Regions from separate parts of the Homo sapiens genome. Here region 2 is linked to region 1. A link means that fine-mapping ties the variant in region 1 to the plasma level of a protein whose gene starts in the linked region. Region 1 holds a variant in brackets. A gene starts in the other region. All regions are shown on one strand. Distances are between the middles of the regions. Region 1 overlaps SLC39A12 (solute carrier family 39 member 12). Region 2 holds the start of GOT1 (glutamic-oxaloacetic transaminase 1).

The links. PIP is the posterior inclusion probability: the model's chance that the variant is causal. The UK Biobank Pharma Proteomics Project read protein levels with antibody pairs (Olink). The fine-mapping took linkage between variants from a reference panel, not from the people measured, so its PIPs are less certain.
Region 2: it holds the start of GOT1, and the variant in region 1 is fine-mapped to the plasma level of the GOT1 protein (UK Biobank, PIP above 0.99).

What each region holds. Positions count from the first base shown.
Region 1 is chr10:17,952,358-17,960,694 of GRCh38, forward strand. SLC39A12 (solute carrier family 39 member 12) reads left to right here. Exons shown (of 13, transcript NM_001145195.2): 2 at 834-1,180. The coding sequence starts at 920. Among named protein-coding and RNA genes, the nearest start is that of SLC39A12, 4.6 kb to the left of the region's middle. The variant A/G (reference allele first, on the strand shown) is at 3,297.
Region 2 is chr10:99,423,163-99,431,499 of GRCh38, forward strand. It overlaps GOT1 (glutamic-oxaloacetic transaminase 1), which reads right to left and starts at 7,462. Exons shown (of 9, transcript NM_002079.3): 1 at 7,286-7,462. The coding sequence starts at 7,403. It overlaps GOT1-DT (GOT1 divergent transcript), which reads left to right and starts at 7,774. Exons shown (of 5, transcript NR_183993.1): 1 at 7,774-8,103. RefSeq lists enhancers at 7,303-7,362, 7,383-7,432, 7,613-8,042.

The DNA.
Region 1 (8,337 bases):
TTCTAAGATGCTTCCTGCTCTAGAATCTTGATTCTTAGTAAACTAAAAAAAAGACCTGTGTTTTCTGAACATTACTATTTTCTTCTAGTGCTTTTCCTTGTCTAAAACTCTTTTTTTTTCTTTTTTCTTTTTTCTTTTTTTTTTTTTTGAGATGGAGTCTTGTTCTGTCGCCCAGGCTGGAGTGCAGTGGCACGATCTTGGCTCACTGCAACCCCCGCCTCCCGGGTTCAAGCAATTCTTCTGCCTCAGCCTCCCATGTAACTGGGACTACAGGCACGTGCCACCATACCTGGCTAATTTTTGTATTTTCAGTAGAGACGGGGGTGTCACCATATTGGCCAGGCTGGTCTCAAACTCCTGACCTCGTGATCTGCCTGCTTCAGCCTCCCAAAGTGCTGGGATTACTGGTGTGAGCTACCGCGCCTGGCCTAAAACTTTTAAACTCAACATGATGTTGGTCATTTAGTAGAATTTATTTTCTCTTTTTCATGAGGACCATGAATCACTTGGAGTTCTTTATAATGGGATAAACATAAGGTGTTTCCCAACCTGGGTCCTATAACTTGTACCACCTGTTGGTAAATGGAGAAACTTACGTGACGCTATGTTTAGTTTAGGGAGAGAGAATCTAGCAAGCTTTTTGGCTGCTGTGCAGTTTGAAAGTCTACAGCCATGGTGCTTTCCTGCCATTTGGGGTTAGAAATTACCTACAGACCCCCGCTGTGTAGAAACAGCTTGTCATTGCAAATCAGCTTAGCCACCCAATTAATGAATCCTTTCAAACATGTTGCAGGCACAATAATTGAAGGCTTTATTTTTCCCCTTTACCACAGAAATTCCTTTGGTTACAAGTTTACCCCATAAACGGCAACACACTCACCTCCATCCAAGACAGACTCAAGGTGGAGGAAGCGTGGAAATGTGCTTCCGGACAAAGCTCTCAGTATCCTGGGTGCCATTGTTTCTTCTACTCAGCCGTGTTTTTTCTACTGAGACAGACAAACCCTCAGCCCAGGATAGCAGAAGCCGTGGGAGTTCAGGCCAACCGGCAGACCTGCTACAGGTTCTCTCTGCTGGTGACCACCCACCCCACAACCACTCAAGAAGCCTCATCAAAACATTGTTGGAGAAAACTGGGTGCCCACGGAGGAGAAACGGAATGCAAGGAGATTGCAATCTGGTTAGTGAAATAGAATGGGGTCAGGTATCAGGGCATGTCCAAAAGAAAGCAATGGATTCTATAGGGATTTATTTCAGTAAAGCAAAATCACAGGCAAATCTTCCAATATGCAATTGAGCAATGCATTCTGGTAAAATAATTTCCATATTTGGGATACAGCAAATCAGCATTCTATGTATAGCACCTAGGGACATTTTTGTTGTTGAAAGGATGATGTTTATGTAAGGCTTTCTAGAACCCTTCTGCATATTTAGAGGCATTTATTTGTGAGCGCGAACTTTTAGTCCTCTTTTCTGATTGACTAATCTTTTCTTAAAGCCTTCAGTGCACTTGCACGTGACTAGTTTTAGTTGCTATTTGTTTGCTGGAGCATAATGCGATCTGATATTTGCCCAACATTGGGTTTTTGAGTACTTTTTCCTGGCATGGTATTTTCTAATATTATGCATGGCGGGTAGTTAATGATTGGATAATCATCTTAACGATGAGGAATCTGAGCTGGGGAGACAGATGCTGCAGGTGGAGCTGAAGTCGCACCCATGGCTCCTGAGGCCTGAGTCACAGCCTGATCTTAGCCTACAAAGCGAATCTCAACCCTGATTGGAATCAGCTGCATAGGTTTCCCAGCATACCCATGTTTAGGTGTCATCCTCTAGAGACTGAGATTTTACTTGCCTGGGATAGAACTTTTAAAAGTCTCTCCAGGTTATTATTTATTTTATTTTATTTATTGTGAGACAGAGTCTCGCCCTGTTGCCCAGGCTGGAGTGCAATGGCATAATCTTGGTTCACTGCAACCTCCACCTCGTGGGTGCAAGTGATTCTCCTGCCTCAGCCTCCCAAGTAGCTGGGATTACAGGCACCCACCACCACGGCCGGCTAATTTTTTTGTATCTTTAGTAGAGATGGGGTTTCACCATGTTGGCCAGGCTGGTCTCAAACTCCTGACCTCGTGATCTGCCTGCCGCCACCTCCCAAAGTGCTGGGATTACAGGTGTGAGCCACGGCGCCCGGCCTCCAGGTCACTTTAATATGACGTCAGTGATGTCTAAGAATTTATTCATTAGGGAGGGTGGGGTAGGATGGAAGGAGGTGAGAACTCATGTGTTTAAATGACTACAAAAGAAAAAATAAAACCTACTCCACCATCCCATTCCTGACCCACGAGATTTTTTAGGACGAACCCATAAATACATAAATGAAAGCATACATAAATAAGTAAAACAAAAGCTAACAACCGTCTCCAAAATACATTTTGGCAGACTTTCTCAATCATGCAGAGGCGAGGGAGGGAGGGGAGGGGAACATTTTCTGACCAAGTGTTTTGTTTTTTCATAACAGAAGAGTTCTTGCTCATAGAGAATTTTTCTCTGCTTTGTGTGAGCAATAAATAATTCAATAATTATTAAAATACCCAATGGTTCCCAGAGGAAATGTGTTATAATAGGCAACTCATCTGTGATGACATTAATATATATAGATGGCAACACAAGATGTCCCACTGGAAATAACCAGAAGTCATCTCTTATTCATGTCCTCTGAGGATTCGCTTCAGGGGAATGTTCTCCTTTAATGACGTGAAGTGCCTTATTAAGGCTGGTTGAATAGTAGTTTTGCCAGGGGGGAAGGTAAATATGCAAAATTGTTCTCCATTTTCAGGGCTGGGGGAAGGATTGTTTAGCACTTACTGTTTTCTGTGACAGTATCAGGAGTTTAGCCAATTTGGTCCCCATTTGAATCAGTTCCATTCCTAGGACTTGAAACACCATCTTAAATAGCTTCACCCTCCTTCTCTGTGAAAGAAAGGCAGGTGAAGCAGAAGTGAGTCTCAGCTTTACCTACTCAGAAGGCTTCAGTTCACCCCAATCACCCATCAGGAAGGAGCTTAGGAAATGTCTCCCATCATTCATGAAAAGAGGGAGGAAACAGAGTCCTCTGAATTTCACAAACACGCGGGTTCTGGCGCGAACCACAGAGCTTCAGCTTGTGGCCGAGTCTGTTCTGTCATCTGAGGGACTTTGTCTGCTGACAGGCAGGGTTCATGCTACAAATTCTATCGTAAAAAGAGAGGTTAAGGGGGTTTCTTCATATCCCTAAATGTCTGAAAAAAGAGGGA[A/G]GTAGGTATCTTGAATTTGTTGGGAGTAAAAATGCTTCCAATTTTACGTCTGTATAAAAAGTGAATTTTTTAAAAAGCCAATGTGAAGTATCTGAGAGCATTGCACATTTAAAATAAATTCAGTCAAGCTGCAGTCTTTGAAAATGAATAGTTCTGGGCTGATCCTGGCTTTTTCTTTCTTTAATGAGAAGGGGTAGAATATAGTTTTAATGAACATCGTGAGAGATTAAATAACTCCAAAACAATACATTCTACTTCAATAATTATGAGAACCATAACCCTACACATGTTTCTGAAAGGAAAAGGGCCCTTTTCTGGCACCTTCTAGTGTTGAGACATGTGGAGCCTCAGCTTCCTCACCCTGAAGGCTGGGATAATGAGCCCCTCCTCAGGGAGGTCTGTGAGGACCACATGGACAAACACATGTTCCTCAGGCGCCAGATGTCTGTGAGGGTCAAATGGATATATATGTGCCCCTGAGGGAGATATCTGTGAAAATCACACGGACATGTGTGCTCCCCGGGGAGATCTCTGCAAGGATCACATGGACACATATGCCCTCAGGGATCAAATCTCTGAGAATCATGTGGACATAGATGTATTATGTCCCAGGAAGATCTCTGTGGATCTCATGGACATGTGCTCCTCAGGGAGATCTCTGTGGGGATCCCATGGACATACATGTTCTTAGGAATCAGATCTCTGAGGATCTCATGGACATACATGTACTTCTTAGGAATCAGATCTCTGAGGATCTCATGGATATACATGTTCTCCTTAGGAATCAGATCTCTGAGGATCTCATGGACATACATGTTCTCCTTAGGAATCAGATCTCTCAGGATCTCATGGACACATATGCAGAAAGTCAGATATAGGAGCTCAAGTTCCTTCTGTTCCCTGTGCCTCACAGCAATGTCTGATTCCTCCTTTTCCAGGGACACTAGAGCAGCGCCATTCCTCAGAATCTCCCACCCACCTGTGTCCCAGGCTCCCCTCCACTGTCCTTGATTCTGAGGATTTTAAACGAAGTTCTCCAGGCAATTCTTAGACACATTCAAAGCAGAGAACCACTGCTTTAAGGGTCTCCATTTAATTCACACCTGGCCCTAGCCCCTGACATAACTGTCATGGAATAAAGTGTGGAAAACACCCAGCTTTGTCTTATTATCTAACAATTTCATCTTAACTCTTCTCAGTTAAAAACTTCTTGTCAGTCAGAAGACCCACTAAATCTAGTACAGACCCTAAAGAGCCAGTACCTGCCATCGGCAACATCCTTCCAGCTCTTTGTCAGGAAAAAAACACATACACGTTCTCTCTTATATTTACAATCAATTGTTAGCCACCCCCCACCTCCGGAAAAGAAAAAAACACCTTATAGAAACCTGAGAACTTAAAAGAGACTGTCTTCTTTTAAGTTCTCAAGTTTCTATAATATAAAATTTCCCATTGTTTAAAATCAAATGTTAAACATCTTTCAGTCTAAAACCCCTAAAGTTTATCCTGGAGGCCTGACAGCTGTCTTACTGATGTAGGAGAAGACAGCTACCAAGTTGTTTTTTGTCAGCTGAGGCTCTCACCTGGCATAGATCATAAGCAAAGCTGAATTTCAAGGCTGGGTGAGACCATGTGATGTGGCTCCAGGATGTGGTGGACAATTACTACCAAGTGTCCGAGTAGCCTGTTTAGCTTGAAAGGGGAGCCTCTCCTTGCATTTTAATCAGTCTTTTCCCAAAGTTTATTTCCTTATAAAGTCATTAAAACTAATTCCCAGAATTTATGAGATTCCCCCCGCCCCAAACCTTTTTCCCCCACCTGACAAGATTAAAAGGAAAATCAATGGATTATTCCTGAATGAGTCCATTCTTCTTAAACAAAGAATTGCTTCACCAGAGGCAGCAGCCTTGGACAGATCTTGATGCCTGTGGGGTGGCAGTATTTGCGACATTTTGCTAAATATCCTCTCCCAAACACAACTGAGCCAACTTCTAAAAACATTAACAACAAAACAAATCTAGTGGCGTCGAACTGAAAATTCCAGCTCTGTCCTCATCCAACAGCCCCAGTAGAGCTTTTTGTCATATCTATGTCCAGGGGAAGAATTCTTATTTTATGTTAGCTTTTCTGAGGCTTCCACCTGTATTCTTTCCTCAAGCCACAGCCTTCTGTATTAAAATAAATTCTTTACGATTCAAATATTATAAAAGGGAGGAAGGTTTCCAGCCCGTGGTCATTTGATTCACAATTAAGCTTTGATTTAGCAGGCCTCAAAAAATCAAAGCAAATGTGATGCAACACGTGTTCATTCAAGGTTACCAAAATCTCTGTTCCGACAAAAGAAGATGCTTCTACAGCTGTTTCAAGCTTTCCAAAGCCAGAAACCAATTGTACCTTCCATATTGTATGCCTTTTATACACAGTTGTGGAATGCCTACCCACACGATTATAGTGCGGACCCTGCTCTCTGCTGTTCCGTGCCTTGCATTCCAATTCCAACCCTGGAAAGATACATGGCAAAGACACTGAGGAAGAATGATGCATGGACAGGAGTCTCCGCATCTCAGATGGGTTGAAATATGGTCACATGTTCTGCCATGTGCTCATACACCAAGCCCTGCCCTGGTCTCATGGCCCCATGAGCGTCCTACTCCTTGCATCATAGACATTCTTCTTCCTACCTACCCAGCCCCATCAAACAACCTGAGTAGCACTTGAAAGTATAACATAAACTCATTCAACGCTCTCGTTGTACCATGTCCTTGTTCTGATTGATGTTAGACTTGGACCAATCTCTTAGCCACCTAACTGACCTCTACTCCCATCAAATAGGAGGGAGAGAAAAATTACCGGTCAAAGTGGTTGCCTAACAAGTACATCAGTGGGTCCACAGCCTGTGTTCTCCATGGCACAAAAGGAAGGAATAAAAGAATGGGTCCTGTTCTTCGAAGAGCAGGAATTGTGACTAACAGTGCTCTCCACCATCAGCTGTGTAGCTTTGGGCAAGTTTCTTATCCGCTTTAGTCTTGGTTTTCACACATTCTATGAGTAAACTTTTCTCATGAAGAAAGGTGTAATTCATGTGTTCTTTGCAGTATCCTTGCATACCGTACACAAATGTATCCATTAATTCATTGTGCATTAAATAATTGAGTAATTGATCTTCTAGTTGCTTTATATTATAAAAATCAAATATTTAGAAATATTTGGTGGATTATTACATAGGCTGGAGACATTTTGTTTTTCACACTTAAAATAATAATATAGGGTTCTTATTAAAAAATTCATTACTTTATGCATTTTTCAAAACCAATTAGATTATGCACCAAGGAATAACTGAATGCAAAAGATACTCTGCACATTGCTGGGCACATGGCTACCAACAAATTGTAGCTAATAGTACCAATAGTTTAGTTTCAGGAGGCTATTTTGTACAAAGAACCTCTTTTATTTCCATTTTTTTATTTACACTTTTTATAAAAGTGTAAGTTTTTCATTACACTTTTATTTCAATGGATTCGCTTTTTGGGTCTTGGTGTCAGCCTTGCCATCAGCTACCAAGGTGTGGACTTTTCTTCTGGGCTACTTAGGAAACAGAAAAGGGATGCTGAGGTTTTACAGGTGGAGCCTAATATCCACATTGAGAGTTGGTCTTAGTGGAACCCCTGGGTCTCCTCTGTTTGAGTACTTGACCCCCTGCAGTTGGGTTCAGGAGAGATTAAAGTCTGTGTGGTTTTATGAAGAATGTGATTATGCTTTGATTTGGAGATGGATGACATTTGTTTCTTCCTGACTCAGATGATTACATAGCAGATGTTACACAGTGGGTTGTACAGCAGACCTTGAATTAGAACCCCCAAAACTTCCACTTCAAAGAAGACTAGATTAAAAGATATTGTAGTACAATATCCCCACCATGGGACAAATCTGTCTGGGAGTCACGACAGGCGTTTCTCAATGCTTTCACTCTGTGGCTATGTCGTGGGGCTGCTTCTCAGATCCTGTGAGAATTCTCAGGAGCTCCCCAACTGTCTCTGCAGAAAGGCAGCTTCCCTCTTGCTGAGAAAGCTTCTGGTCCACAATTCCTGTGTCTTTTTCTCACTGTCCCACAACATTTATCCGAATCCCTTATGTCAAGTAAACTTCTCAGATTGCAGGAGCTGGGCATGTGCTTGTGGCTTGTGAAACAAATAAGGCAGCACAGTGGAGGGGAGGAAAGACTTTTCCTCTAACATCTTAAATTCTGTAGCTGGGGCTTGTGAACGAAATGGACAAAAGATGGATTAACAGGAGAAATAGCACACACATTTGATGTTAATATTTTTATGTGGAATAGGGGCATCATAGAAAAAGTGAAAACTCCAAAGAAGTGGTTAGACCCAGGGGTTTATATACCATTTTAACAAAGAGTAATAAATTGTGGGGATGTGACAAGAGTAAGAAAAAAAGTGAATTTGGACTAGAGATGGTAAATTGTGGGAAAGTGACTAGGAAATATGTATGGGAAACCAAAAATTTTTTTTAACATTATACCAATGGAGGATTATTTTAGTAAAGTTCGTTTGTATAGGTTCATCTCAGCATTAATTCCCCATCTCCAGTGATAAGAATGTTCTCCTCTTCCTGATACAGCAAGGATACCTTTCTAATGGGAAACTTATGCCCTGCTTTTAGATAGTAAGGCGAAAGGCAGAGAATCCTTCCTGTACCTGCTGTTTGTCAGTTGCCTTCAGCTCAAAATAATCAATATGCTACAGTGGCATATTTTGGGGCAGTATGTTCTGATTCCCTTCAACAAAATCATTTTTGGCAATTTCCCTAAATAGGATAGAAGAGGGGCAGATGGAAGTCATTTGTAAAATTTTTATACCTCTTAAGTGCCAGGTATTGTGCTATATGCTAAGGATAGAACTACGCAAAAAGCAGACGAAATCTGCTGTTAGTGGACCACAGGTTCTCATAGAGAAGAGAGAGAATAAACAAGTAAACAAAGCAATTTTACAATACGAGTGCTATGAAGAAAAATTTTTAAATGGTGTAT
Region 2 (8,337 bases), 81 Mb after region 1:
TTTGCCAATATAATATGTCAAGTAGTTTTAATTTGCATTTATCTTATTATGAATGCAATTGGGTATTTTTCATAAATATGAGCCATTTACAACATCAGTTTAGTGGATAAATAATATTTGTTTTATATATAATTTATTAACTGTGTTGCTTTAAATTATTTGCTATTATAAACATTGTGATAAATGTTCATATATTTACACATATTCATGAGTGTTTTCTTAGGAAAAATATCTAAATGTTAATTTATTAGGTCACAGGATATACAGTAAAAAGACTTTATAAGATCATTTTGAATGATCAGCTAACTCTACCCTCCAGGAATATGTCATCTGCAAATCTGAGAAACATTTCAAGTTAGTAATAGAAATGTGGACAGGGCTACAGACTGACAGAGCCACTGACCAAATGCCTCTGGGTAGGTGAATCAAACAATACTCTCATACCACTCATAGTCTACCCTCCGGCTCTGGTGAATCTAACTCACAATATTTTTTTCTTTTTTTGAGACAGGGTCTCACTCTGTTGCCCAGGTGAGAGTGCAGTGGCACGAACACAGCTCACTGCAGCTTCAACCCCCTGGGCTCAAGCAATTCTCTTGCCTCAGCTTCCCATGTAGCTGAGACCAAAGTCATTCACCACCAGGACCAGCTAATTTTTTTTTTTTAAATTTTTCATAGAAACAGGGCCTCACTTTGTTGCCCAGGCTGGTCTCAAACTCCTGGGCTCAAGCAAACCTCCCGCCTCGGACTTCCAAAGTGCTGGGATTACAGGAGTGAGCCACCATGCCTGGCCCAACTCACAATACTCTCATACCATTCATGATATACCCCTTAGTCCACCAAACTTCTCAACAAGTTCAAAAAGCCTCCTTCGCCAGCTGGGATTTGGTCTGGCTTCTCTAAAGATGTACCAAAATAGCTACTTCCAAGTAAGAGTTGTCCCTAAAGCACATCAACATATCTATGATCACAACGTTACCATTGTTCAAAATATTCTTGAAACTTCTTTTGGAATTGTTTCTAGAGGCAACATCTCATTATTTTGAATAGCCTCAATAGTGCCAAATCTTTGTCCTTTGAAAGTCAATTATTTTTCGGGAATAGCATTTGCATCATCTCCATTGAAAAGAGTGAGTGAATAAGCTGGGTAAAACTTACGGAGAACAATTATTTTAAAAAATGATCCCTTGTGTGGGTCCTACATGCCTTGATAGCTAGTCTAAAAGGGGTTTCTAGAAATCTTGGAACAAGAAAAGCATATTTGAACTACCTACAAAGGATACTAGGTAGATGCAAAAAAATTTGGGATGTTTATAGAAAAACCAGTTCTGTTATGTTTCAGTTCTGTGTCTGGGTGTTATATCTATTCTATAACATTATTAGGCTATGTGTTTATATTTATGATAATATGTCATTCACAAATAATGTGCTATGAATAAATAAAATATGAAAGAGAAAGAAAAGACTGGAATACTGCTGTTCTTACCACTACTGAATACTCTGTGAAACTCTAAAATTCCAATACTACTACTTGGGTTGGGGATGGTTGGAGAGGCATTGTGTCTATACTGTGACTAAAAAAAAACTGGCCAATTTACAACTCCCCTTCCTTCTCCATTGCCCAGTTTTTCCCAGGTTGAGTTCTAGATTTGTTCCTGATGCCTCTCCTAACTGCCCTAGTGAAGCAGAACCAGATTCCTCTTGGGTGACTGGAGCAGTGGGGTCAGGCATTAACAACAACCACTATTCCTGCTGTCCCCAAGAATTTTTATTCCTATTTGTTGGACCCTTGAGTTTCTCATTCACTCTTTCATTCACTCGCTCACATAACAAGTACTTACTAAGTCTCACCATGAGCCAGGCACTGGCTAGTAGAAGCTATAGAGATTGATAAAATAAGATCCCATCTGCCCTCCAAGAAACACAGAGCATAGATAGAGCCTTTAATTCTAATTTGAGGAATCAGAGAAGATTTTACAGAGAATGAAGAATGAAAGATGAATAAGAGTTTAAAAGGTAAACAAGGGAAGAAGGGCATGCGAGAGGGCACACCTGTGCAAGGCCCCAGAGGCCTGGGGAGCATGAGGTCTTTGAGGATCTGCATTTTCATGACTCTGATGTGGAATCCACTAAGGATTAGCTGGGAGTGGCTAAAAGAATCCTGGAGTCTCTTTTAGGGAACTTCAGTTTCAATGGGTAACCACTGAAAGCATTTAAGCAAGAGAGTAACATGAGCAGCTGCACATTTTAATGGGATCATTTGAGTGACACCACAGAAAATAAACCAGAGAGAAGGACAGAGACAGTAGTTAAGAAGGGTGAGTTACTAGAAGTAGAAGGAGTAGAAAGCTACTGCAATATTCCAGAAGCGAAATAATGAGGCCTTGAATTCACACAATGGCAGCAGGGATGAAGAAAAGGGGTGCCATTGGAAATAGATTCGAGGTAGAAAAGACAGAACCTATTGACCAAATAAAAAGACAGGGGATTGGGGAAAGGGCTGCTGTTGACTCCAAGGTCTCCCTCAAGTCTGGATAATGAGTGGATGGTGGTAGTGGGGTCGACCAAGACCTAGAACACAAGGGGAAGATAGAAGAAAAGATCAAGGGGAAGGTGGAAATGATGAGCTGTGCTTTGAACATGCTGAATTTGAGGGAGTTGTAGGATGTGTCCACTGTAGGCCTGACATTCAGAGATGAGGTCTGGGGCATGGAGAAAGACATTGACGGAACCTGAGGGCAGAGAAATAACAACACGGATTTACTAAATACTTTGTACATACAAGGTACTGCACTAAATACATTTCTTTACTCTCATTTAATTTGGATAGCAACCCACAAAATAGATATTGTGATGTCTATTTTAAGGATCTGGCTGCTGCAGCCAGAAAAGTCAAACCATTTGCCCAGGATCACAGAGATAACAAGAGCTAGGCTGTCATACTATTAAGTTCATGGATCCATGTGCTTTTTTAAAAGCAAGAGATGTCTAGAGAAAGCCTGAAGCAAGCAGGCCCCTGGGACCATGTCAGGGGCCTTTTTATCAGCATGCTCCCCAGCTCCATGCCCCACTGCTCTTCTTCCTGGACATAAACCCTTTTAGGGGAGTCACACAGTCTACAGGTGGGCCCAGCAGTCTTGCTTTGCAGAAGGAAAGGAAGAAAGAACACAGATTTAAATGGTCAAACCATCACCCTCATCTTCCTCCTAAGATCGCCACTTCCCTCACCTATCCCCACTCAAGAGCCTATTAGGATACTGGGGAGAAGGCTAGGGGTACTCAGAAACATCTGATAAAGCATATTTTCCCAACTATTTTATTTGAAGATGCTAGGAAACCATGTTGAAAATAAGAAATATTAAAGCTAGCAGAGTTTATCTGGGCCAAAAGAAAGCTAGGCTCACATGAAAAAATGGACTGGAGTCTTTGAAGAAACTTCTTGCTACAGGTTGCACCAGGTTGGATCCATTTCCCATGTCCTTAAAACCACTTCAGTCTGAAGCTTTGAGAAGCACTAAAATGATCAACTTAGAAAGCATTGTGCTTAGCAGTGGAAAATGTGATACTCTCCTCTGTTTACCTATAAGGAAATTATTTAAATCATCACAGCAAGAAGAAAAACTGAGGAAACTAGCTGCAAGTAGGAACTGTCTGAGATTACAGGTGCAGTTTATTCTAAACGTGTCCAAAATCACTGGAACATTAACTAGATAACCTCCATTAGGTTTTATATTAACTTGGGGGAAAAAAAGTATCTTCCCTAAGGTCAATGATTAATTACATTTTCTTCACAAGGGGTATACTTGGGGATGTGTATAAATAAGACTAGGACATATAACGGCTGGAAGGAGACCTTTTATTCTACTCTAATTAGATCCTTATCCAAACACCTGCTATCCACAAAAAGACGGGTCACAGTGATGATCAAAAATAACACTTATATATGACACTTTTCATTTATATATCACATTTCACATATAATTATTCATTTAATCCTCAGACAACTGATGAGGCCAGTAAAATTATTATCCTACGCTACAGTCATAGAATGTGCTAGTGAATTGTGGAGTTGACTTTTAGTACAGTAGAATCTTTTTTATTTATTTATTTATTTATTTATTTTTGAGACGGAGTCTCACTCTGTTGCCCAGGCTGGAGTGCAGTGGCGCGATCTCAGCTCACTGCAAGCTCCGCCTCCTGGGTTCACGCCATTCTCCTGCCTCAGCCTCCCGTGTAGCTGGGACTGCAGGCGCCCGCCACCACGCCCTGCTAATTTTTTTGTATTTTTAGTAGAGACGGGGTTTCACCGTGTTAGCCAGGATGGTCTCAATCTCCTGACCTCGTGATCCGCCCGCCTCGGCCTCCCAAAGCGTTGGGATTACAGGCGTGAGCCACCATGCCTGGCCCAGTAGAATCTTAAGAGTAGAATTTGGGAGAGAGGTCATTCAATCTTGGCTCCTCATTTAACAGATGAGCCCCAGGGATGTTAAACAACCCTTCCAAGTCACATGGCTGGACCACGGTGCTGGGCCTGTACCTAGGTCTCCTGGCTCTTCCCACTACAGTGTACTGGCTACCACCTGGAGGTACCTGAAATACAGGTGTGGGCAGAGACTCTGAGGCCTGAGAGACCTGGCCTGGATTCCCAGCTCTACCACCCAGTGGTCAAATGACCTGGGGCAAATTGCTTCACCTCTCCAGTCTTCGGCTTCCTTGCCTCTAAACAGTAATAGTAATAAACCACCCTCCAGAGTTGTGAGCATTCAGTGAGATTACATGCATAAATAATTTGCTCATGGTAAGGAGTTGGAGTTCCTGGAAAACATGACAAAGGCACCTTCACAGCTGAGGTGGCCGTCTGAGTCAATGACTCCAATTCTGAGTCCATTGCTTCTGGCCTGTGCTGTCGGGGTGCTTTTTCTCTGCAGGAGCAGTTTATTTCTGAACCAAGGTCATAAATTAGTTCATTTTGCAGTTCTTGAACTGAAAATTTTTATTCAATATCTTTTATGAGAATCACTCAAAGAAATGCCAAAACAACAATAACAGTAATACCTAACACTTATATAAATCCTACTTATGTGCCAAATACAGCTATAAACACTTTAAATGTACTTAATCCTCACAGAAACCCTGTAAGATAGTTCAAAGGTAAATTGAATTAATAAAATAAATCTGACGTGGTTTTTTGTTTTTTTTTTTCTTTCTTTCTTGAGACGGAGTCTCACTCTGTTACCCAGGCTGGAGTACAATGGCGTGATCTTGGCTCACTGCAACCGCCACCTCCCAGGTTCAAGCGATTCTCCTGCTTCAGCCTCCCAAGTAGCTGTGACTACCAGTGTGCACCACCACGTCTGGCTAATTTTTGTATTTTTAGTAAAGATGGGGTTTCACCATGTTAGCCAGGCTGGTCTCGAACTCCTGACCTCAGGTGATCCACCTGCCTTGGCCTCCCAAAGTGCTGGGATTACAGGCGTGAGCCACCGTGGCAGGCAAAATCTGACGTTTTAAAAAGATGTATTTAGATTGACAGTAATACTAGTTCTTTGTATACATCCCGCTGCAAAGAAACGCTTGGAGGTTTTGGACTGGTTTTAAATTAAGAGACCAAATGGTGTCCATTCAAATTCAATTTGAGGCAATCTTTCAACATTTCTCCCACTCAGTTGCCTGCTAAAAACATCATTTTCCCTCAATGGGCCAAACTATGTAGTACTGACTTATCTTAAAAGCTTTATGATGAAAAATTTCAAACCTATACAAAAGCTGAGAGAATAATATAACGTATGCCCATGTACCCATCATCCAGCTTCAACAAATTACCCGCTTCAACAAACCATCACTTTTCAATGGATTTTTCCTTACCCCTCCCCATACTCCTTAGTGAAGACTTTTTTTTTTTTTTGAGAAAGAGTCTCGCTCTGTCGCCCAGCCTGGAGTGCAATGGCACGATCTCGGCTCACTGCAACCTCCGTCTCCCGGGTTTAAGCAATTCTTCTGCCTCAGCCTCCCGAGTACCTGGGACTATAGGCGGCCAACACCACGCCCGGATACTTTTTTGTATTTTTAGTAGAGATGGGGTTTCACCGTGTTAGCCACGATGGTCTCATCTCCTGACCTCGTGATCCGCCCGTCTCAGCCTCCCAAAGTGCTGGGATTACAGGCCTGAGCCACCGCGCCCGGCCGACTTTTTTTTTTTTTTTTTAACAAATGCTATGCACAGACAAAACGTTATCTATGAGAAACCTGATTCTGAGCGTCCTTCATGTCACACTCTGCTACAAAATGATTCCACCTTCTCTTTCCACAATTTCTAGTCCTTTTATTCTAAGTCTATTACCTAGCATAAGACTTTATCCTACCCATTTTCATCTCTCTGGCTGGTCTTTGCACGTGGCAAAATCCAAATGGAGAAAATAAGTGTCTGTGGGGCTTCAAACATCCAAATGATAGTGAGAAGAATAACAAATTCATCAGAGAGGGTTAGGGGTAAAAAATTTGAGAGGCACTCCAATATAAATCTTCTTGGCAGATGGGGAAACTGAGGCCCATGCTCTGAGCTGTCCAAGGTACAGAAGAGAATCACTTGAATCAAGAAATGAAGATAGGATGTGTGGAAAGTAAGCTTCTACCATCCATACTTCTCTCCACTCCTTTCCACCATCTCTACCCATTCCTACCACATCTGTGACGGCCAGAACCATCTCCCCAGACCCCCCGGGGGCAGCATTAACCTGTCTCAAAGCATTGTGTAACACCAGCAGATTTTTAAATCCTTAAGGGCAAAATCAAGCCTCAGTCTCCCCCTACAAAGCTTAATAAGGTGGCTGATTGATACTCGGTGGTCACTCAAATATTTACCGACTCAGAACAGAGCTTTCTAGCGTTAAAAGTTCTCCTTTACCCATTTCCTAGCAACCAGAACCCTAAGCCTATCAGGCTTCCTATTTTTCTACCTCTCTCTACAAGCTCCGGCAGCCTCATTTCTTAGGAGGATGCAGTATAAAGAAGGCAGAATGGGGAATCGGAAAGACTGAGTTTGTGTCTTGGCTGCTACACCTGGTTTGTGCGGCCTCGGACACATCGCCCCTTTCCAGGGACTCCACACCTGCATCTGTAAAATGGGCAGGTTTTAGGAAGCCTTCGTGGATCCAGCCTCCTCTCCGGCGCCGCCCTCTTCAGGCAGCGCCACACTGGGCCTCGGCTTCTCCCACAGTCTCCACGACCTGGGTTGGGTCCGCTCCACTCCCCGAGCTGCTCACACTCCAGAGCACTACATCCTTACCTCCCACTCCCAGGTTGACCTTGCGGGGGTCCGGATCCTCCCTGAAGTCGGCAGTGAGCTTGAAGACCAGGACAGGCTGGGCCTGCGGAACCTCGGCAAAGACTGACGGAGGTGCCATATCGAGAGACTAGGAATCAAGAGATTTCACCCCACGCCCGGAGCTGGCAGGTCAGGTCTGGCCGTTGCGACTGGAGGAGACACTCACCTTCACCTAGCCGGCGGGGGCGGGCCCGCGGCCTCCAATGGTCGAGCCGCGTCCAAAGCTTGGCAACGCGATTAACCAATCGCCAGCTTCTGACGACGAAGGCACAGGGGAGAAGGAACGCTATTAGCCAATCCAAGAAAACAATTTATCGGCTGCCGAGAATGATGCAACCAATGCAATTTCCTCCGGCTGAGGCGTGGGCGAAGACTACGGTTGATTGGTAGAGCGTGCTCCTATCGCAGAGGCTGTTATTCCTTGGGTCTCCCGGCTGAGGGGAGGAGCCGAGCGAGCGGCGGGTGTCCCTGAGAGGCCACCTTTCGACCTTCGAGGGCCAGGAGGATACGGGGAGGTGGCCGGAGGGAGTTCCCGAACACAGGTCTTCCTGTTCCCGCCGAGCAGGTGTTGGCGGTGCCAGGCCCGGCCTGGCGGGCCCGGGCTGGCAGCCAAATACCCAGCGTCTGTGCTCGGGACGGGAGTGTTCGTCCAGGACGTGCAGCTCCGGAGCCTGCGCGGGCGACCTTGACCACCTTTGTCGGCTGTTTCCCCCTGAGGGAAGTATACCTGTCCTGCCAGCCTTGGTCTCTGGCAGGGAAGGTCCTTCCAACAGAGAGGGGTGCGCACGAATTCCTTTTTGCCGCTCTTCTATTAATAGTTTGAGATTTTCCTCCCCGATTCCTTGCAGAGAGGGCCTGGTCCTCAAGGACCTCGGGATCTGGGCGCGACGTCCCTTCCCAGCTTCCTCCCGCGCGCACCGGACCAGATCTTGCTGTCGTCAGCTGGCTGGTACCCAAAGTTCCTCTTCGTCAGGCTGTTCCTTCCCCGTTAGAGTCCTTCCTCCCCAGGAGCC